3 separate regions of the Homo sapiens genome follow, and regions 1 and 2 are each linked to region 3. The links come from fine-mapping of genetic effects on gene expression. A gene starts in region 3. Each other region holds a variant in brackets. All regions are shown on one strand. Distances are between the middles of the regions.

Region 1 (7,211 bases), 40 kb after region 3:
TCTAAAGACTTTATCAATATTTATAAAATACTTAAGAAGTACTTTGCTTAACCCAGTATATTGAGCAGAAATAGGAAAATGTGAATAGTGTCAATTTAAATACATATTTACTAATGTATCTTTTGTACATTCTGCTAAAACGTTATGGCTCCAGATTGAGTTCAGTTAATTTATGAGACATGGCTGTCACATAATCTAATTGACAAAGTCATTTCTGGTTGTCAGATCAGCCAGACCAGACTTACTTTCTGATTCACTTTTTCCATTCAAATAAATGTGTTAATGACCATTCATATGACACTCTGAATTCTGATCTAGGTGCCATTTTACCTTCTAGATAAAATAAGATACTGTCACTTTCAGCATTTTTTACTAGTGCCTTGTTATTTTGCTTTCACTGAGGTTTCTTCACTCCTTCCCCCTCAAGTACATTCTTTGGCAGTAGGAAGGGCCTGGAAGAGGTATGGTTGTTAAGCAAAAATTGTCTTTTCTTCCATTACCCACTCTTCAATATATCTGAATTCAGAACATTTCAATAAAAGGTAAAATACCCATTTCTAAAGGACACTACACTCTTAGGAGAAATGTGTTTCAGACACAGAAGGACACAGAACCCTCCTGTGTTTACAGTTTCTTGATTAAAGGAAGTTTCAATCATACCGGTATTTTAGGTTTTTTGTCTCATACCCTGAAGACTTTTGCTTTCCTAAACAATATTCTATAGCCTCCTTTGTTAAATGAGAAAGGGCTATAATGAAAGGGATGGCATCTTCACAAGAGGTAGTCTAGGCCAAATCAATTGTAAGAAAGACTACATGAAGAAGTAGAGAATCATGGAAAAATAGCCTTAAAATTACCCATGCCTTCATACTCCATAGACTCTACTCTCTGTAGCACCCAGGGATACGTATACCCCAGATTGAAGGCTGCTGGTCTGTACTACCTGCATCTCCTTTTCCATCTCCCTCCCTGCTCCTTCCATCCAGGACTGTTCTATCCTTTACCTTAGTCAATACTCAGTGGTCTGTAGTCAATCCCTAGTTTATTAAATCAATTGTTTTTGCTCAGACTTTGTCTTACTAGATACATCTGAAAATGTGAACACCTACCCTAGCTAAGAAGAAAAAAAATTGAGGGAATTAAGGGAAAAAGAGAACGACAGAAAACTGAAAGGAACAAAAATTATCTTAGCTTATGGAACATGCCAACATATGCTGCACAGGCCTTGAATTTTGCCACATCCGTGTTCTTACTACTTTTCTTTTACCTTTGTTTTTGCTTCAGCCTGACAGTGCCTTTCCTTCCTATCCGTCCATTTAGCCTTCAAAGACCAGCACGTCTATGAAGTGACAATATGATTGCTCTTTCTTTCACACCCCGTTCTTGGTTTGTACTCTGATGTTTAGTATTTAAATAACCATAATGCTTTTCATTACATATTTTCTTTATAAATGCTGTCTTGGATTTGGAAAAAAAAAAACTACTGGGGTTTGTAAATAGCCCTCCTTAATGTGCACCATTACTATCTATTCCGTTTCATGGTCATATTCTGTCAATAATCTATATACAAACTATAGTTTTTATTTCTGCTCTCCTGCTCTCTCCAGGAATCAAAAAGATCAGAATCTCTTATGGACATACATCATAAAAAGTTAAAGAGTAAGGCTGCTGAAGACAAAAATAAGCCTCAAGAGAGAATACCATTTGACCGTGATAAAGATCTCAAGGTTAATCGGTTTGATGAAGCTCAGAAAAAAGCCCTAATAAAAAAATCTAGAGAACTAAACACCAGATTTTCACACGGCAAAGGCAATATGTTTTTATAAGTAAGTATATTTCAGTGAGGTATATTTTAATACTGATCAATGTGAACTTTTCTAAATACTCTATTGTCTTTAATAATTGTGCTGAAATCTATTTCCTTTTATAATAGATTAAAAATTTTATATTTTTATAAGTAAACAGTGATTTTTGAAAAGTCAGCCTTGTGGGATGAAAAATATGTCTTACTGGAAAAATCCCTCATAATAACCTAATAGGGCATTGCTATTAAAAATGCTAAAATAAAAATTCAGCTTATGAGAAATGGCAAAGGAAGGTGTGGTTTGATACTTGAGTAAATATGCATGCTTTATTAAAGATGAAGAAAGGCTTGCTGGTTGTTTGTATGTTAAACAAAATCCCAACTAGGAAATGTTTGTTGCTTAGAAAGGTCCCCTATAAGTTAAGGTTCAAAACTATTCCAATATTCATCCATAGCCCAATCTGACAAGGGTTCAGAATGGTGATTAAGAAATTACATAAAGCTGGGTGCAGTGGCTCACGCCTGTAATCCCAACACTTTGGGAGGCCAATGTGAGAGGATCGCTTGAGCCCAGTAGTTTGAGACCAGCCTGCTTAAGATGGTGAGACCCCGTATCTACAAAAAACTAACCAGGTGCAGTGGAGCACACCTATAGTCCCAGCTACTCAGCAGGCTGAGGTGGGAGGATCCCTTGAGCCCAGGAATTCAAGGCAGCAGTGAGCTGTGATTGTGCCATTGCACTCCAGTCTGGGCAACAAAGTGAGACCTCGTCTCTTTAGAAAAAAAAAAAGAGGCCAGTGGCTCACACCTGTAATCCCAGCACTTTGGGAGGGTGAGGCGGGTGGATCACCTGAGGTCAGGAGTTCGAGACCAGCCTGAACAACATGGTGAAACCCCATCTCTATTAAAAATATATATATATAAAAATTAGCCAGGTGTGGTGGCACGTGCCTGTAATCTCAGCTACTTGGGAGCCTGAGGCAGGAGAATTGCTTGAACCCGGGAGGTGGAGGTTACAGTGAGCCGAGATCGTGCCACTGCACTCTAGCCTAGGTGACAAGATCGAGAGACTCTGTCTCAAAAAAGAAAGAAAAAGAGAAGAAAAGAAATTACATAAAAGCTGAGGTTGCTTCTTAATATCTTTATGATTTTTAATTGTATTAAACCTATATCAATATTCAAATGTGATTTTTGAGGAAAATATGTTAAATTTAGAAATATTTTCCAAC[T/G]TACTGAGTTTTCTTATTCTTACCTCAGGGGGATTTCCCTGTGCAATGAAGAAAAGTTGAAGAATACTCTTTGTCCATCTTTATTTCTTTGTTTTTGGCTTCTTAAGATTAGAGATTACTTTAATCTTAAAAAACATACAAATTTACCTTGTTCTGTATGTCCTTTTAAGGTCATGTGGAAACATAAAACGAATGTTTTTTATGTAGAACAGAATATTCTATGTGCCTTTAGCTTCTGTGGAAGTATGGGGAATTATGGGCTTTTCTTCAAATAATTATTTTAAGAGGCTTCCATTCCCCCTGATTTTTGTGGTGTCTCACAAGTACCCTCTAAGGTCTGGTCAGGACTGACCACCAAATCTCTACCACAGCCTGGACCTCCTTGTGAAATATACCTAACCTGCCCTAGAGTCAGTGTGTCAAGTCCTTACTGTAAATCCATGACTTTGAAATTTGTTGTTTTTTCCCTTTAAACTGCAGCCAGTGAATACAAATTTACTTGAAAATAGAGGGTATGGGGTTTTGCCTGTTTTGTAATCAGTTTGCTTGTTTTAGCACTCAGGGCTTTTTATTTGTTATTTAATTTTTTAATTGTTTTTAAGTCAGAAAGATCTCTGGGTTATCTCATGTGCTAAGGAAAAACTATTTTGCTTTTTCCAACTTTAATAGTTAGTATTTCTAGGGGAGGCAATCAAGATAAGATATGCCATTAACTGTTAGCATTGTGAAATCTGTAAGACTCAATCTCTGATCTCAACCAAAGCTTTCTGAGTCCTGGAACTTTGCTTTGGGACAACTTTACTTTACCCATTTATATGCTGTACTTAACAGTTTGTAGCTAATTTATGGGGTCATATCTTTTTTTTAGCTAATTTACGGGGGTCATATCAGTCATGAATAGCCTTTTTTAAAAATTTAATAATCCCTGAATACAAAAATGGAAATGGAAAATTTATAATCATAACCCCCCTAATTGGGAGTATTATAAGTTTGTAATGCTTTAAGCACTGCCTCTTAAGATGATAAATTTATAAGATGAGAAATTCTATTTAAACTATTAAACTATTGTTAAATAAATGCCAATTCTATAAGTTATATTTTCTTGCAGATTAATCCCAATTGTTCCACTAGTATTCTAGTTTTGATGAGACACAAATTTTTGTTGTTGTTTATTTTTGTTTTTTTGAGAGATGGAGTCTTGCTCTGTCACCCAGGCTGGAGTAGAGTGGCGTGATCTCAGCTTACTGCAACCTCCGCCTCCTGGGTTCAAGCGATTCTCCTGCCTCAGTGTCCCAAGTAGCTGGGACTACAGGCGTGCACCACCATGCTCAGCTAATTTTTGTATTTTTTAGTAGAGATGGGGTTTCACTATATATTGTTCCAGGCTGGTCTCGAACTCCAGACCTCAGGTGATCTACCTGCCTCGGCCTCCCAAAATGCTGGGATTACAGGCATCAGCCACCATGCCTGGCCAAGACACAAATTTTTAATGGAAAAATATTCTGATTCCCAGTTCATGTAAGCTTTATGAAAATTGAGTATATTGTTTATATGATGGTACAAATTATTCTTCCTCTAATAATAGCAGTACAGTATATTTTTTCCATAGCATCAGTGTAAACCATAGCAAACTAAAGGAGCATTGCTATTAAAAAGATGAATTAGCTGGGCGCAGTGGCTCATACCTATAATCCCAGCACTTTGGGAGGCCGAGGTGGGTGGATCACCTGAGGTCAGGAGTTCAAGACCAGCCTGACCAACATGGTGAAATCCTGTCTCTATTAAAAATATAAAAATTAGTCGGGCCTGGTGGCGGGTGCCTGTAATCCCAGCTACTCAGGAGGCTGAAGCAGGATAATTGCTTGAACCTAGGAGGCGGAGGTTGCAGTGAGCCAAGATCACACCATTGCATTCCAGCCTGGGCAACAAGAGTGAAACTCCATCTCTAAATAAATAAGTAAATAAATAGATGAATTTTTCTCCTAAGCAAATTGAAAAAGCTTCTTGTGTACTCAAAATTGAACAGAGCTACCTTTTGACTAAAAATGTCATTTTTAATGAGCAGTATTTTCTGAACACAAAATTTTGTACAAGAGTGTCTCCATTGCATTAATTTAATTTTGTTATAATTTTTTCCCAATGAAAGGAAAAAAGTATTTTGTAGCTCCTCTTCCTTATGTAAATTCTTAACATATATTTTTGAGAAATTTGCATTTTTTAAAGTAAAATTGTTATCTTTGGATACTTACTTTTCTTTGTTTTCCTCATTTAAAGAGAATAGGGATATTTCTGTATTATATATTTACTGTTTCATCCCTCACCTTTGGAGTGACCATGACCTTGGCATGAAGGAGAGAAACCTCTGCTTTCCGCCTATTGCTTCCAGGAGTTACTACCTTACTGGCCTTGGAGATAATGCTCTTTTGTGCCAACCTGAGGATAATTTTAACAAAATGTAAGGCCAGTTTCAGAGGTTGTTTTGCCCCACAGAGAGACTAATCCCAATACAAGAATATTGACAACAAAAGGACAAAGTAGTTATTGCACAGGACGGAAAGGTGTCTTTATTTCATCCCCTCCCCACTTCCAAAGATGCAAAAGGCCTAATTGAATCAAGTCTCCTTTCCATCTGGCAGGAGACATTTTAATAAGGACTTTTTAATTTCCTACATTTCTTGGCCAAGTGTCATAGGAATGTGGCCTCTTTTGAAATTTAAAAATGAAGAAGAAAAAAAGAGCAACACTAAGTTAATATAATGGAGCAGATACTTTTAATGTTCTTACCATTGAATATGCCATTTAAGTTTGTTATACTTGAAATTATATGATTTTTGTCCAGCTCTCTAAATTGTCATCTCCAATAGATTTAGATGCTTCAAATAGTAACCACATTACTGGTAAGTAAACGGTGGGGTTATTGGGTTTAGCAAGTGGGGAAGTAAGGGGTGAACAAAACACGAGAGATGGTGGCTACACCCCTACTAAGACTGCCTTACCAGATAAATGAAATCCTTTTTGTATTAGGCACAACATGGTAAATTAAGTCTTGCTCTAAAAAAAAAGAAAAAGAAAAAAGAGAAAAGCCCTGATCTAAGAGTTTTTAGATGCTAGCAACCTTGTTTAGATGTAGATCTTGTTTAGATGTAGCAACCACTTGACATTTAATTTATCATCTTAACCTTGAATGATTCTTTGTTTTGTTTTTTGTTATTGAGATGGAGTCTCACTCTTGCTGCCCAGGCTGGAGTGCAGTGGCGTGATCTCGGCTCACTGCAACCTCCACCTCCCGAGTTCAAGCGATTCTTCTGCCTCAGCCTCCCAAGTAGCTGGGACTACAGGCGCCCACCACCGTGCCCAGCTAATTTTTGTATTTTTAGTAGAGACGGGGTTTCACCATGTTAGTCAGGCTGGTCTCGAACTCCTGACCTCAGGTGATCCGCCCACCTCAGCCTCCCAAAGTGCTGGGATTACAGGCGTGAGCCACCGCGCCTGGCCTGAATGATTCTTTGTATTAACGATTTATTTAGAAGTGAGGTTGAGATTGGCCAGGTGCGGTGGCTCACGCCTGTAATTCTAGCACTTTGGGAGGCCAAGGCAGGCGGATTGCCTGAGCTCAGGAGTTTGAGACCCAGCCTGGGCAACATGGTGAAACCCTGTCTCTACTAAAATACAAAAAATTAGCTGGGCATGGCGGTGTGCGCCTGTAGTCCCAGCTACTCGGGAGGCTGAGGCAGAAGAATTGCTTGAACCCAGGAGGCGGAGGTTGCAGTGAGCCAAGATCGCGCCACTGCACTCCAGCCTGGGCGACAGAGCGAGACTCCATCTCCAAAAAAAAAAAAAAGTGAGGTTGAGATTTGCATGGTACCAAGGCTTACATGCTTCAGAATAGATCAATGGTTATTGTATAAGTAATTTTATCCTAAAACATTATGACATTTTTTGTTTCTTATTGAGGGTAGATAATGTTAATATTAAACTACTAATAGGAGGCCCTTATCACTTCTCTTTTCATTTTTTCCATGCAGTGATAGGTATTATTAGAAAAAAGTTATTTCTTGAGTTACACCTAAGAGGAAGAAGTAACATGATGGAAAGTGGTTGGAGATAGCACCCAATTAACATCGACAGCCAAGTCTTCTATTTCAGAATATTGATTTATTTCGCTTTGGCTTTTGATG
Region 2 (7,211 bases), 53 kb before region 3:
CAGAGGTTACAGTCTAGTGGAGAGAGACAAATCAAATTATCACGCAAGGAAATAAAAAACTGCCACTGTGGTAACTGCTGAGATAGGCAAGTACATGGTGCTGAGTGTGTATAAAAGGAGTGACCCACTGAGGGAGGTCAGCAAAGGCTTCCTGAGGAAGCGATGACCAAGCAGAGACTCAAGTTTAAGCAAGCAATAAGACAATAGGGAAACGAGAAGAGCTTTCCAGACTTAGAGAAGAGCAAACGCCTCCTGGCAGGCGGAAGCACACTGAGGAAGCATGGCTGGAGCTCAGGAAGATGAGGAGACCTGCCAGATCACAGTAAAACCAAGGTCACAGAACGAGGGTTTTGCCCACAGCTACACAACTTCTGGGATACTTTCCTTATACTACCACCTTCCTAGTCAACAGACTTCATTTTCTTTCCTCTCCAAACCTTCCCCTGGGACAGAGGTCCATCAGTTAATGCTCATTCCAGGGTAAAAAAGAAATCACGAAGTAGAACATGAAAAGGAAATGCAAAAACTTGAGCCACAAAAACTGGAGACCTCGCTATGGAATTTTTCTTTGTTGAGTGTGCCCAGGAGTCTTGGGGATGGTCTATGTCAGTGGTATTCAAAGTGTGGTCCCAGGACCAGCCACATCAGCATCTCCTAAACACTTATTAGAAAAGCAAATTCAAAGGCCCCACTCAAAACCTATGAATCAGAAATATGGGAGGTGGAGCTCAGCAATCTGAATTTTAACAAGCAAAAAGCCCCACAAAAAGGGTTCCTGTTGCACAGACAATAGTCTAAATCAGTGCTTCCCAAACCTGTCTGATCATCTGAAGCAACTGGGAGCTTGTTAAAATATTCCTGGGCCACACCCCAATACCTACAAAAATTGAAATCTCAGGGCAAGGCTTGGGAATCTATATTGAGATGATCATCCTGGTTTGAGAACCACTGGTCTATATCAAAGTAACACATTGTCTGACACAGTGAGCAATTAATTCCAAGTGTCATTTGTCCTTGCCAAGTAATTAAGGGTAGTAAGTACCTCAGGCTCTGCCAGTCCAACTCAGTACATTATTTGATTTATATCTTCCATCTCCTTAGCTCTTCCCAATTTTAAAACAATATAAGACACTTCCAATTTTGACATTTGTTGAGAAATTTCTCCTTGTCTCTCAGTCTTATATCATCACAGCCACCACAAACTGTATGAGACTTAATAAGTGCTTACCAAATTCAAGCATTATGCTTTTAGCTGCAGTCTAAAAATCTGTTCTGGAAAATATCCCTTTCAAAATATCAAAAAGAAAATCATCCAGCCTTGTAATACAAACAGGCACCCAATTCAGAACTTTTTTCTCTGCCTCTGCGAGGAAATGGATTTTCTACTATCGTGACTCAGTATTTTTTATTTATTTATTTATTTATGAGACAGAGTCTCACTCTGTCGCCCAGGCTGGAGTGCAGTGGTACAATCTCAGCTTACTGCAACCTCCACCTCCTAGGTTCAAGTGATTCTCATGCCTCAGCCTCCGGAGTAGCTGGAATTACAGGTGCCTGCCACCATACCCGGCTAATTTTTGTATTTTTAGTAGAGATAAGGTTTCACCATGTTGGCTATGGCTGGTTTCAAACTCCTGACCTCAAGTGATCTGCCCAGCTTGGCTTCCCAAAGTGCTGGGATTACAGGCGTGAGCCACCACACCCAGCCTCAGCACTGTTTTAAATAAACATACAAATAAATATGGGATGAATTAAGACAATATTACGTTAACAAACAAAAAACCTTCCAGAGCTGAAAGAACAGATAATATCATAGATTCATTTTCAAGTATCAGCATTTTCAAGAATTTTCCCATATGCTGAAATTTATGCAGCTGATCTACAAATAATATTGACTGGTCTCTTAGAGGTAATTTTACATTTCTCAGAAGCTCTTAAGCAAGACAATGATATGTGACTCACTTCCCACAAGATTTAAGAAGGCCACAGCCCTGGTAAGAAGTGAAAAAAAAAAAAAATGAGTGGTCGCCTTAACATGTAAAAAGTGTGTAATTATTGGTTAGGATAGTTTCAGAAAGTTTAGTGGTTACAGGCAGCAACCTTTGAGTACATAAAATCAGAATTTATGAAGTGGCTGCTGCTATGACTCTAATAAAACAAGGAAGCAATTTAATAGTTTTAAGAAAATGGAAAAGAGCACAGGAAGGAAGAAAAGATAGGCTTGAGTAAATTACTCTGCCCCTGAAGATAGAAAAAAAAAAAAAAACACTAACTGTAAAATTGTATAATAATAATGAACTGTTTGCTGTGGTATATGGTATTATCATGTTCAAAGGAAAAAAACCCTACAAAACCTAGAAGGCATTATCAAGAAGATAGGCCATGTTACCTGTAAAAGTAAGGGGATTAGAGCAAAAACAAAAAAAGTTGAAGGTCCTCTTCTCTACTTCTATAAAATAGAGAATTTAAAAGAAAAACCTGACAGATCCCTATCTCATACCATATGGAAAACAGATTAAAGACTGATATGTAGTATCACAAAAGTAATAGAAAAAAATATGTATTGGGGGGTGACACAAAGCCCCAAAGCCAAAGTAACAGATCCAACCTCTGCAAAAGTTAAAATACTAGCAAGAAATTGAAATATTTAACAAAAGATTGAGATCTATAATAAAGTATTTGTACAAATCAAGAATAAAAGGCAAAACAACAGGAAAATAGAGAAAGGATGAGAACAGACAAGTCACAGAATACAAGGGCCAAAAATATACATATTTGAAAAAATGCATGGCTTCACTAGTGTCAGGGAAATGCAAGAGAAAAAAAGGCATTCTCACCTGACAGAGTAACATTACCATATTTGCTGTTGTGGGATGTTCTTGACTCTCAGTAAGGTCATCTAAATGTAACCTGTGTTGTGTTTGAAAAGTCCAACACTGGGATCCCTGCACTACTGTTCTGGACTGGGGGCTGCTGACTGACTGGATCAGTCCTCAGGGTAGAGGGTGCTCCAGAAGGAAAGGCACAACTCCCTAGCCAAAAGCCATGTGGGGTATGAAAAAGGAGGCCTGGACACTACCTGGTCCTTCTTCCAGTCTCACACTCTCCTGAAGCACCTGAATGATAATCCCCAGCTGAACTCTGAGGAAAATTTAAATTTTTTTTTCTAAATTAGGATACATCTTACACACTGGCACATTTCACGCATTGGCAAAACTAGTAGAAAGATTTGTAATACATTGGTAAGAACATGGGTAAAAAGAAATTCTCATGTACTAGTCAAATAATAATTTTCAGAAAGTAAAAAACATAACAAAGTAAGCACAGGTCAAAAAACTTATTAAACTTATTACCATAGGACCCTGCAAGATGACAAAAGAGAATGTCACAGAAGAATGCTGGAATAAGATCTCATAGTTAAATGCTAATGTGGTTAATGTTCTACAAGGCTAAAAAACTGTAACCTCTTTTCTATCACAGAAAAATAACA[T/C]ACCACTCTACCAGATCATCGTTTGCAGCTTATCAAATGATGTACAAGTTAACATCTAGCTCTAGAGTCTGGGCCTTAACAACAGTAAATCATAGTCACAATATGTTAATTACCCATTAGGTGAATTTGTTTGACAATGCTCTAGTACACTGTTTCTCAAACTTTTTTGTTGTTGTTAATTTTTTTTTGAGACAGAGTCTCCCTCTGTCACCCAGGCTAGAGTGCAGCGGTGCAATCTTAGCTCATTGAAACCTCTGCCTCCTGGGTTCAAGTGGTTCTCATACCTCAGCATCCGGCACAGCTGGGATTACAGGCATGCACCATGCCCAGCTAACTTTTATATTTTTAGTAAAGACAGGGTTTCGCCATTAGATTGTACATGAATCTAAGTGCACCATTAGATTCTCATAGGAGTGCAAACCCTATTATGAACTATGCATGCAAGGAATCTAGGTGCACTCCTTAGGAGAATCTAATGCCTGATGATCTGAGGTTGAACAGTTTCATCCCAAAACCATCCCCCTGCCCTGTGCATGGACAAATTGTCTTCTGTGAAACTGGTCCCTGCTGCCAAAGAGGTTGGGGACCACTACTCTAAATCTTCAGCCAGTTAACAAGCTCCCTTCTCAGTCAAGGTTAAATGCAGAAAGACAGCTTATACAAATGCAGGGAAAACATACACCAACTACCAAGAGGGAATCCCTCTTTCCTAGCTAAGGGGGAACATTTAAGGACAACAGACAGCACACAGAGCCAATGATAATCAAAGGGGAAAACAAGGAACAGAAAATGTGAAAATTCTGATTGATCTCCTCTGAGATGTAAGGGTACTACATGTATGAAACAAGAATTAGAGGATGGGCGTGATGGCTCACGTCTGTAATCCCAGCACTTTGGGAAGCCAAGGCAGGTGGATTACCTGAGGTCGAGAGTTTGAGACTAGCCTAGCCAATATCGTGAAACGCCATCTCTACTAAAAATACAAAAATTAGCCGGACGTGGTGGTGCGCACCTGTAACTCCAGCTACTCTGGAGGCTGAGGCAGAAGAATCGCTTGAACCCGGGAGGTGGAGGTTGCAGTGAGCCGAGATAGTGCCATTGCACTCCAGCCTAGGTGACAGGGCAAAACACTGTCTCAAAAAAAAAAAAAAAAAAAAAAAAGGTGGGGGCGGGGGAGGGAGGGGCTGGGGCTGGGCATGGTGGTTCACACCTGTAATCCCAGCACCGAGGTAAGCAGATCACCTGAGGTCGGGAGTTCGAGACCAGCCTAATCAACATGGAGAAACCCCGTCTCTACTAAAAATACAAAATTAGTCAGGCATGGTGGTGCATGCCTGTAATCCCAGCTACTCAAGAGGCTGAGGCAGGAGAATCGCTTGAACCCAGGAGGCAGAGGTTGTGGTGAGCCAAGATCGCACCATTGCACTCCAGCCTGGGCAACAAGAGTGAAACTCTGTCTCAAAAAAGAAAAAAAGAAAGAAAGAAAAAGAAGAGAAAAAAGAATTAGAGACAGCAATCTTTAATATGTAAATACAAATTACTAGCAAGGCGAGGTGGCTCACACCTGTAATCCCAGCACTTTGGGAGGCCAAGGCAGGAAGATCACTTGGGGCCAGGAATTCGAGACCAGCCTGGGCAACATAGTGAGACTCCATCTCTACAAAAAATTAAAATTTAAATTTAAAAAGTAGCCAGGCTAATAGTGGTGTGCGTGCCTGCGGTCCCAGCTAATCAGGAGGCTGAAGTGGGAGGATCACTGGAGCACCAGAGTTTGAGATTACAGTGAGCTATGGTCATGCCACTGCACTCCAGCCTGGGCAACAGAGTGAGACCCTGTCTCTAAAAAATAAAGAATTACTAAATTTAAAATGAAATAGAAGAGCTGAATAATAAGGTAATGGATATGTTCAAAGAGTGAATTAGTGGTCTGGAAGGTGATATCTGAAGAAATCTTTCAGAATAAATAGATCAAGACAAAATACAGAAGTATAGTGTAGAGGGTAAGTTAATAGGTTTGACATCCACCTAAGAAAAATAATTTTAAAAATCTTATTTAAAATTGCCTTTTAGTACAAGAATGGTACAATGACTCAGATGAAAGGACCGTGGGGGTAAGCAGCATGAATGACAAATGTCCCAGAGATCTAGACACAAATTGGTGAAATTTTAGGACTCCAAGCATAAAAAGAAAACCCCAAAAGTTTTTCATGAGGAAAAAATAGGTTACTTATCAATAAATAAAGAGAGGTAATCGGATTGGTGTGACTTTAATCAACAATACTGGATAACAGCAAATGATTGTTATAGCTTCAAAATTCCAAAGGAAAATGATTTTGAGTCTAAAACCATAACTCAATTTAAAAAACTTTAAATTGAAGATTCAACATTTAATTACTTGAAGATATGCAGCAGCACACCAGAAAACTAATCCTGGGATGCAAGAGAAAGCAATCAGAAGAAAACAGTAAAACTCACAGTGGCCTAATAACTATTTACACATACGCACCAAGATCCCAGGGATTAATCTAAAACTAAAATCGTATCTGATTACATCACAAAAAGAGGCTGAGGTGGGGAAGTGAAACAATGCTAAGGTTACTGACTTAATTGGGAGATGGATGGAAGATGTGGCTACTAATTAACTCTAAACTTAAAGAAAAAAGGTAATCACTAAAGAAATAGCAATAGGTTTAATTACTTCCAAACCACTGGAGGAATAACAAGGAGAAAAAAATAACAAGCCAGTAAGATGACAAAATAAAAACAAGAGAGCATGATATATAGAAAATACAAAGTAAGACAGCCAGGAATAGTCCAAATGTTTTAATAATCTCAATTAATATAAATGTATTAAATTTCCCAGAGCTGGTTTGATTAAGGAAAATAGAAGTCAATTATAGAGGATATGAGAAAAAGTAAAGTATTTCAGTTATAAAAGGCACAACTCACCAATAGTCATGTAATGCTTACATTTCAGAAACTGATTAAACGAACAATAAGATAGGAATGTAGAAGGCAGAAAGTTTGAACAATTAACAAGCTAAATCCAAAAAAACCTGTACCCAAAACAGGCAAAGCACCCCTCTACCCACCCAAAACTCATAGAATATTTACAAATATTGACCATATAATTCCATAAAGTAGAAACCATACAGGCTATATTATATCTCCTTAGAAATTTTAAATACACTTGGAATCTGAAATACCCATTAAAAATAAACAATAGTCACCATAGCTAAAGACTGTCAGACATACAGCCAAGGGAGTACTCAGGAGTATTTTCAGTCCTAAATACATTTATTATCAGGAAACAAGAAAAATGGAAAATAAAACTGTTTCTATAATATACCTTAAGGCAGTGTGGGGATCAACAACATCCCTGGAGATATGGTCATCAATGAAAGTAGTCCAGGAGTCCATGAATTCATTTATTAACCCATAAGCCTATAAAATGTGTATGCTAACTAGTAATAAAAGTACAAACTGTGTTATATTTTAGAATATCAACTCAGTTGTAACACTAGTTACTTCATCCTGAGTTGGTTGGGAATCACATCTTTGAATATATCAAAATTAAACTGAGTTCCTTGAAGTCAGACATGGCCTTATTTATTTGTATACCTTTAATATAGGCACAATAGAGGTACAAAGAGTAAGCACTCAACAGTGTTACATGAATTGAATTAGTTAATGTATAAGGCAGATAATTTCCCAAAATATG
Region 3 (7,211 bases):
CGAAAGCCAGAAATGATTAAGCTTAGTGAGGAAGACACGTTGAAAGCTGATACAAGCCAAAAGCCAGGCCTCTTGTGCCAAACGGCTAGCCAAGTTGTGAATGCAACTACTGAGAAAGGGTCTCACTGTCAGCCAGGCTGGAATATAAAGGTGCAGTCATAGCTCATTGCAGCCTCAAACTCCTGGGCTCAAGGGATCCTCCTGCTCTGCCCTCCTGAAGTGCTGGGATTACAGTCGTGAGCCACCGTGTCTGGATGAAAAGTTCTTGAAAGAAATCCACAGTGATTCATAGATAGTGATTCCTCTAATGGATCTGAGCAAAGTAGATTAAAAACCTTCTAGAAAGGAGGTTTTGATTCACTATTCAAGATACCATTAAGAACATTCATGATTTATGGAAGGAGGTCAAAAGATCAACATTAACAGGAGTTTGAAAGAAGAAATTCCAACCCTCATAGACGATTTTGAGGAATTCAAGACTTCAGTGGAGGAAGTCACCTCAGATGTAGTAGAAACTGCAAGAGAACTACAATTAGAAGTGGAGGGGCCAGGCGCAGTGGCTCACGCCTATAATCCCAACACTTTGGGAGGCTGAGGTGGGTGGATCACGAGGTCAGGCGATCGAGACCATCCTGGCTAACATGGTGAAACCCCATCTCTACTAAAAATACAAAAAAATCAGCCGGGCGTGGTGGTGGGCGCCTGTAGTCCCAGCTACTAGGGAGGCTGAGGCAGGAGAACGGCGTGAACCTGGGAGGCAGAGCTTGCAATGAGCCAAGATCGAGCCACTGCACTCCAGCCTGGGCAACAGAGCAAGACTCCATCTCAAAAAAAAAAAAAAAAAAAGAAGTGGAGCCACAAGATGTGACTTGCTGCAATCTCATGGTAAACCTTTAATGGATGAGAAGTGGCTTCTTATGGATGAGGAAAGAAAGTGCTTTTTTGAGAAGGAATCTACTCCTGGTGAAGATGCTGTGAACACTGTTGAAATGACAACAAAGGATTTATAATATTATATAAACTTAGTTGATAAAGTAGCCTCGACTTCCTGGGCTCAAGGAATCCTCCTGCCTCAGCCTCCCATGCTTCTAGGACCACAGGCATTCCACCACGCCTGGCTAATTTTATTTTTTTTGTAGAGACGGGGGTCTCACTTTGTTGCCCAGGCAGGTCTCAAACTCCTGGGCTCAAGCAATCCTCTTGCCTCTGCCTCTCAAAGTGCTAAGATTAGGCTGGGTGCAGTGGCTCACGCTTGTAATCTCAGCACTTTTCGGAGGCCAAGGAGGATGGATCACTTGAGGTCAGGAGTTCGAGATAAGCCTGGCCAACATGGTGAAACCTTGTCTCTACTAAAAATACAAAAATTAGCCAGGCATGGTGGCGGGCACCTGTAGTACCAGCTGCTCGGGAGGCTGAGGCAGGAGAATCACCTCAACCTGGGAGGTGGAGGTTGCAATGAGCCAAGATCACGCCATTGCACTCCAGCCTGAGCAACAGAGACTCTGTCTCAACAAATTAAAAAAAAAAATAAATAAAGTGCCCAGATTATAGGTGTGAGCTACCCTGCTCAGCCTAAAGTATTTTTTAATCAAGGTATGTAAGTTGTTTTTTAAGACATAATGGTATTGCACACTTACTAGACTATGGTATAATGTAAAAATAACTTTTTTGCCCCATAGGATCTGCAGGAAAACATACTTTTACATGCAACGGAAAACCAAAAAAAAAATAATTGTGTGACTTGCTTTACTGCAGTGGTCTGTAACTGAACCCACAAGAGCTCCAAGGTATCCCCAGATCTAGAATCCAACTACTTCTCACCATCCCTTGGGCTTCACCCTGGTCCAAGTCTCCAATATCTCTTGTTTAGAAAAGTAACTACAATAGCTTCCTAACCGGTTTCCCTTTCAGTCAGTTCTCACCAACAGACACATTAATCCTCTTAAAACGTAAATCAGGTCATGTCAATCCGCTGTACTACCCACCTCACAACAGTAAAAGTCAAAGTCCCACGATCTACAAAGACATACCAGGTCTTACCCTCCTCCCCCATCTTCTACAATTATACTCCAGACTCAGTCCTCTGTAGCCACACTGGTTCCCATTCTGATGTATAGCTTCTAAGCCTCAAGACCTTTGCACTTGCAGTTCCTTCTGCCCGTACCCCTATTCTCCCAGTTGTATGCATGGCTGTGATCTCTCACCTCCCTAAAGTCTTCGCTCATATGTCACCTTCCTTATGACTAACAATGACATTTAAAACTGCACTACCTGGCCCGGCGTGGTGGCTCATGCCTGTAATCCCAACACTTTGGGAGGCTGAGGCGGGCGGATGCCTGAGCTCAGGAGTTAGAGACAGGCCTGTCCAACACGGGGCAACCCCCTTTCTACTAAAAATATAAAAAATTAGCCGGGTGTGGTGGCGTGGGCCTGTAGTCCCAGCTACTCAGGAGTTTGAGGCATGAGAATTGCTTGAACTCGGGAGGCAGAGGTTGCAGTGAGCCTCTCTGCAGAGACTGCATAGGCTGGAGTGAAGTAGATCGCGCTACTCTTCACTCCAGCCTGGGCGACAGAGCGACACTCTGTCTCCAAAAAAAAAGAAAAAAAGAAAATCCTGCACTACTTACCATTCTTCTTTGTTTTATCTCTCTCCATGCCACTCAACCTTCTAATGCACAATATTTTATTTTGCTTATTGTCTGTCTTCCTACACAAGAGAGATAATATTAAGCTCCATAATATTTTTTGTATGTTCTGCTCACTGCTATATACCCAGATTCTGGTACATAGTCGGAATTCAATAAATAACTGCTAAATGGAATTAACAGTCAACAGGAAAACATTCTAGTCAGACATATTTTGAGAACAAAGGATTTACAATATTATATAAACTTAGTTGATAAAGCAGCCTCGACTTCCTGGGTTCAAGGAATCCTCCTGCCTCAGCCTCCCATGCATCTGCGACCACAGGCATGCCACCATGCCTGGCTAATTTTATTTTTTTTGTAGAGACGGGGGTCTCACTTTGCTTTGAGATGCTAATGACCAGACTCCAAGAGTGCAGAGGCAAGGCAGAGTAGAGAGAGGAAGCAGAGAAAGGGGAGAGGAAAGAACGGGGGAAAAAGGTAAAGGGGTCGACTCACGTGGAAAAATAGCCTACCTGCAGGGTTGAAGGACTTCTGATGCCGAGGAAACCTATCAGAAGACTGTCTCCAATACCACGATGTGGAAGCATGGAAATTCCAAGGCTGGCCGCTGGGTTGAGGCTGAGAATCAAGGGGAGACTGGGCGTCGAAGGGGGGTTGCGCCCCGGGAAGAATCTGGGCGTCGAAGGGGGGCGGAGCCCCGGGGAGAGACTGGGCCTCCATGGGGGGCTGCGACTCAGAGGAAGGCTTTGACCCGGCTGCGGGAAGCGAGGACGTAAGTGGTGGTGGCGGTGGCGGCAGCATTGCCCAGAACATCCAGCTGTCCCGCGGCGGGGCAGTGTCGCTCAGGGGCCCTAACGTGGGAGTCAGCTCGGGAGACGCATGCCACCCGATAGGAGTCTCGAAATCACTAGTCGGCTCAGCCATACCACTGGCGGGTCCGGAGTCTAGCACGCGACTGTGGAGCAAGCATTAGGCGTCACTTCCTTTACCGTGAACTACAAGGCTCAGCCAACCACAGGCTTTACGTCATTTCTCGGCGCCGGGAAACCTGCCATTCTTCGCTGCTGATCGCGGGATTCTTTTTGGATAGGGTTGACGTTCGTGGATAGACTCATATCTGTGACCAGTGTCCGCCACCGCGGATGGCAAGAGACCTGATCGGACCGGCCCTGCCGCCCGGCTTCAAGGCCCGCGGAACAGCGGAGGACGAAGAGCGGGACCCGAGCCCTGGTAAGCGGCGGCGTCTCCGCTGCCCACCAGGCCCATCTACCCACTCCCTGGCCGGGCCCTGCTCGCTGAAGAAAGTCGGAGGCCTAGGAGGGCGGAGGAGTGGGGAGTGGGCGCGGCCTGACCCGAGAGAACTTTTCTCTTCCCAAACAGTAGCAGGGGGGAGGAGGCTGGGGGACCCTCCTAGAAACGAGCTTTGGCGTGGTTTGGCTTCGTGATGATAATACATTCTCATTTAGCCTTAATATGAGCTGCACGCTGCCCTAACTGACTGATACCCACTCAGTCATTTAAGCCGTATAAGAAAAAAACTATTTTCCCATGTTGCAAATGGGTACGCCCAAGCCCATGCCAGTGTCTAGATCATACTGCTAGCAAGTGATGGAGCGCGACTTAGAAGGAAGCGGTTCTCTTAACCTCTGTGCCATATTGCCTTCTGATTACAAGAACCTTGCAGATCCTGTTCTCTCCAGCCCCCGACCTGCCTTCCTAGCCTCTCATTCTGTTATTGCATCTGACAAACACAGCCCAATACTCAATCCAGTCTGAGTTGCTGCGCAATTCCTTAACGCTCTAGGCTTCTGGGCTTCCTCTGGTTGCATTCCTAAACATAACTGACAAACTTCTCCCCATCCTTCAAGGCCCAACTTAAATGTCACACCAATAAAACCTTTCCAGATTCCCCGAAGCATTGTCATGCCTTTCTTTTTGCCCTCGGGTTTTTTCCTAATTACATTGCATATTTAGTACACTGTATTTGAATAATTTGTCGACATAATCTGTCTCCACCATTGCACTATGGTCTTCTACCTGAACACGCAACAGGCACTTGGTATATACGAAACGAATGCTTCTCGGATTCCGGCATGCATACCTATCTGCTTTAATGTTTATTCACATTTGTAGACTAGCACCGACACCCAGTTGGAGAAGAGTAAAGCTGAAAGAGTAACCCTGCCATTTCTGAATCTAATTTTTCTTCCTGGTCTACCCGGAGGCTATGTTTCTACTACAGGCCCCTTTCCAATATAATTTCTGTCATAACCACTTTAAAAATTATGCCTTCCAGCTGAGCGAGGTGGCACAAGCCTGTAATCTCAGCACTTTGAGAGGCTGAGACGGGGCGGATCACTTGAACTCAGGAGTTCAAGACCAGCCTGGCCAACATGTTGAAACCCCATCTCTACTAAAAATACAAAAATTAGCCGGGCGTGGTGGCGGGCGCCTGTAATCCCAGCTGCTCTGGAGGCTGAGGCAGGAGAATCGCTTGAACCCAGGAGGCGGAGGTTGCAGTGAGCCGAGAGTGCCACTGCGCTCCAGCCTGGGCGACGGAACGAGAGTTTGTCTCAATAAATAAATAAATAAAAGTAAATGTGAAAAATTATGCTTTCCTTCCTGTAGGAGATAGCTTTAAAAAAATAAAATAAGGCCAGGTGCGGTGGCTCACGCCTGTGAACCCAGCGCTTTGGGAGGCCGAGGCGGGCGGATCACGAGGTCGAGAGATCGAGACCATTCTGGCCAACATGGTGAAACCCTGTCTCTACTAAAAATACAAAAATTAGCCAGGCATGGTGGCACGTACCTGTAGTCCCAGCTACTTGGGAGGCTGAGGCAGGAGAATTGCTTGAACCTGGGAGGCGGAGGTTGCGGTGAGCCGAGATCGCGCCACTGCACTCCAGCCTGGCGACAGAGTGAGACTCTGTCTCAAAAAAAAAAAAGAAAAAGATTCTTCGTATATATTTGTTGAATGACTTCTCTTCGTCAAGCACAATATCTTACACGTAGTGTGTCATTTTAAACACATAATCTCCCCTGCTATAATTCCATTCCCTTCATAACCGCCTAGATGGCTGAACCTAAAACGGTTGCCAAAAAATCTTCATATATCATTTTTATTTCATCTATCTGGATTTTTAAGAAGTTTGCCAGTACCAATGGCCTTCACATCCACTATATCACACCATAGAAGCTGCACTTGGACCATCTTCCAGTTATTACCTGCATCACCACCCCTCCTACAACCAGAGGGTAACTGCTTCCTTGATTTATAGCATCACAGATTCGTTTTGCATGTTTTCTCTTTCATAACTGGCTTCCTATCTTGGTACTACATTACTTTGTGAGATTCATTCATGTAGATTAGCATTATTATAGATTGTTGAAGTTCATAATCTGGTCTTTAAACAAACAGAATTATTATAGGTTGTTTCTTTACATTGCTATATAGTCATCCATTAGATGAATGTTCTGCAATTTATCCATTTTACGTTGGATGAACATTTGAGTAATTTCCATTTGGAGGCTGTTATAAAATGTGCTGCTATGCATTGTAGTATATGTCTTATGGTAGATACTCCCAGCTTCCAAAGTCACCAAAGTTCTCAGCGTGTATGAGAATTCTAGTTGTTCCACATTCTAATATTTAGTTTTTTTCTTTTAAATCCGGTGGTTTGTAGCAATATCTCATGGTAGTTTTAATTTGTATTTCCCTGGTGACAAATGAAATTGACCACCTTTTCATGTGTTATTTGACCATATGAATACATGCTGTGTTCAGTCTTTTGCTTATTTTTCCATTGAGTTGTCTGTCTTCATATTGATTTATAGAGTTCTTTTTATAGTCTGGATATGAGTCATTTTCCAGATAGGTGTATCAGAAATATCTTCTCTAATTCTGTGGTTTTTTCACTCATGTTGGTATGTTTTGATTAACATAAGTTTTTAATTTTAATATATTCTGACTTTTAATTTTTTTCTTTTATGGTAGAATTTTTTGCATCCTATTTAAGCTATCTTTGCCCACCCCAAGGTTATAAAGCTCTTCTGTGTTTTCTTCTAAAAGCATTATTGTTTCAGCTTTCACATTTATATTTGCAATTCATCTGGAATTGATATTTGTGTGTGGTGTGAGATAGGGATGAAAATTTTTTGCCCCTGTAAGGGTATCCTGGCACCATTTATTGAACAGACCATCCTTTCACCACTATCACCTTCCTTATAAATCAGGCAACCATATATATGCATCTAGTTTTTTTTCTTGTTTATTCTGGTAAAATATACACATCTGTCATATTAACCATTTGTAAGCATATAGGTCAGTGGCACTTAGGTACAGTCACATTGTTGTGCGGTCATCACCACCATCCATCTCTAGAACTATTTTCATCTTGCAAAACTGAAACCTATTCCCATTAAACAATAACTCCCCATTCTCCCCTCTGACCCAGTCCCTGGTAACTACCATCTACTTTCTTTTTCTGTTAATTGGACTATTTTAGGTACTTCATTTAATGGAATCATACAGTACTTGCCCTTTGGTTACTGGCTTATTTCACT

The links.
Region 1: its variant is fine-mapped to the expression of GPALPP1 in blood mononuclear cells (TOPMed, PIP above 0.99).
Region 2: its variant is fine-mapped to the expression of GPALPP1 in whole blood (TOPMed, PIP 0.97).

Annotation. Positions count from the first base shown.
Region 1 is chr13:45,026,178-45,033,388 of GRCh38, forward strand. It overlaps GPALPP1 (GPALPP motifs containing 1), which reads left to right. Exons shown (of 8, transcript NM_018559.5): 8 at 1,608-4,128. The coding sequence ends at 1,826. Among named protein-coding and RNA genes, the nearest start is that of GPALPP1, 40 kb to the left of the region's middle. The variant T/G (reference allele first, on the strand shown) is at 3,034.
Region 2 is chr13:44,932,951-44,940,161 of GRCh38, forward strand. NUFIP1 (nuclear FMR1 interacting protein 1) reads right to left here. Exons shown (of 10, transcript NM_012345.3): 10 at 6,299-7,211. Among named protein-coding and RNA genes, the nearest start is that of TRE-TTC2-1, 19 kb to the left of the region's middle. The variant T/C (reference allele first, on the strand shown) is at 3,491.
Region 3 is chr13:44,985,865-44,993,075 of GRCh38, forward strand. It overlaps GPALPP1 (GPALPP motifs containing 1), which reads left to right and starts at 3,674. Exons shown (of 8, transcript NM_018559.5): 1 at 3,674-3,878. The coding sequence starts at 3,791. NUFIP1 (nuclear FMR1 interacting protein 1) reads right to left here and starts at 3,607. Exons shown (of 10, transcript NM_012345.3): 1 at 3,161-3,607. The coding sequence starts at 3,572. RefSeq lists enhancers at 3,145-3,783, 3,408-3,477, 3,668-3,857, 3,784-4,420.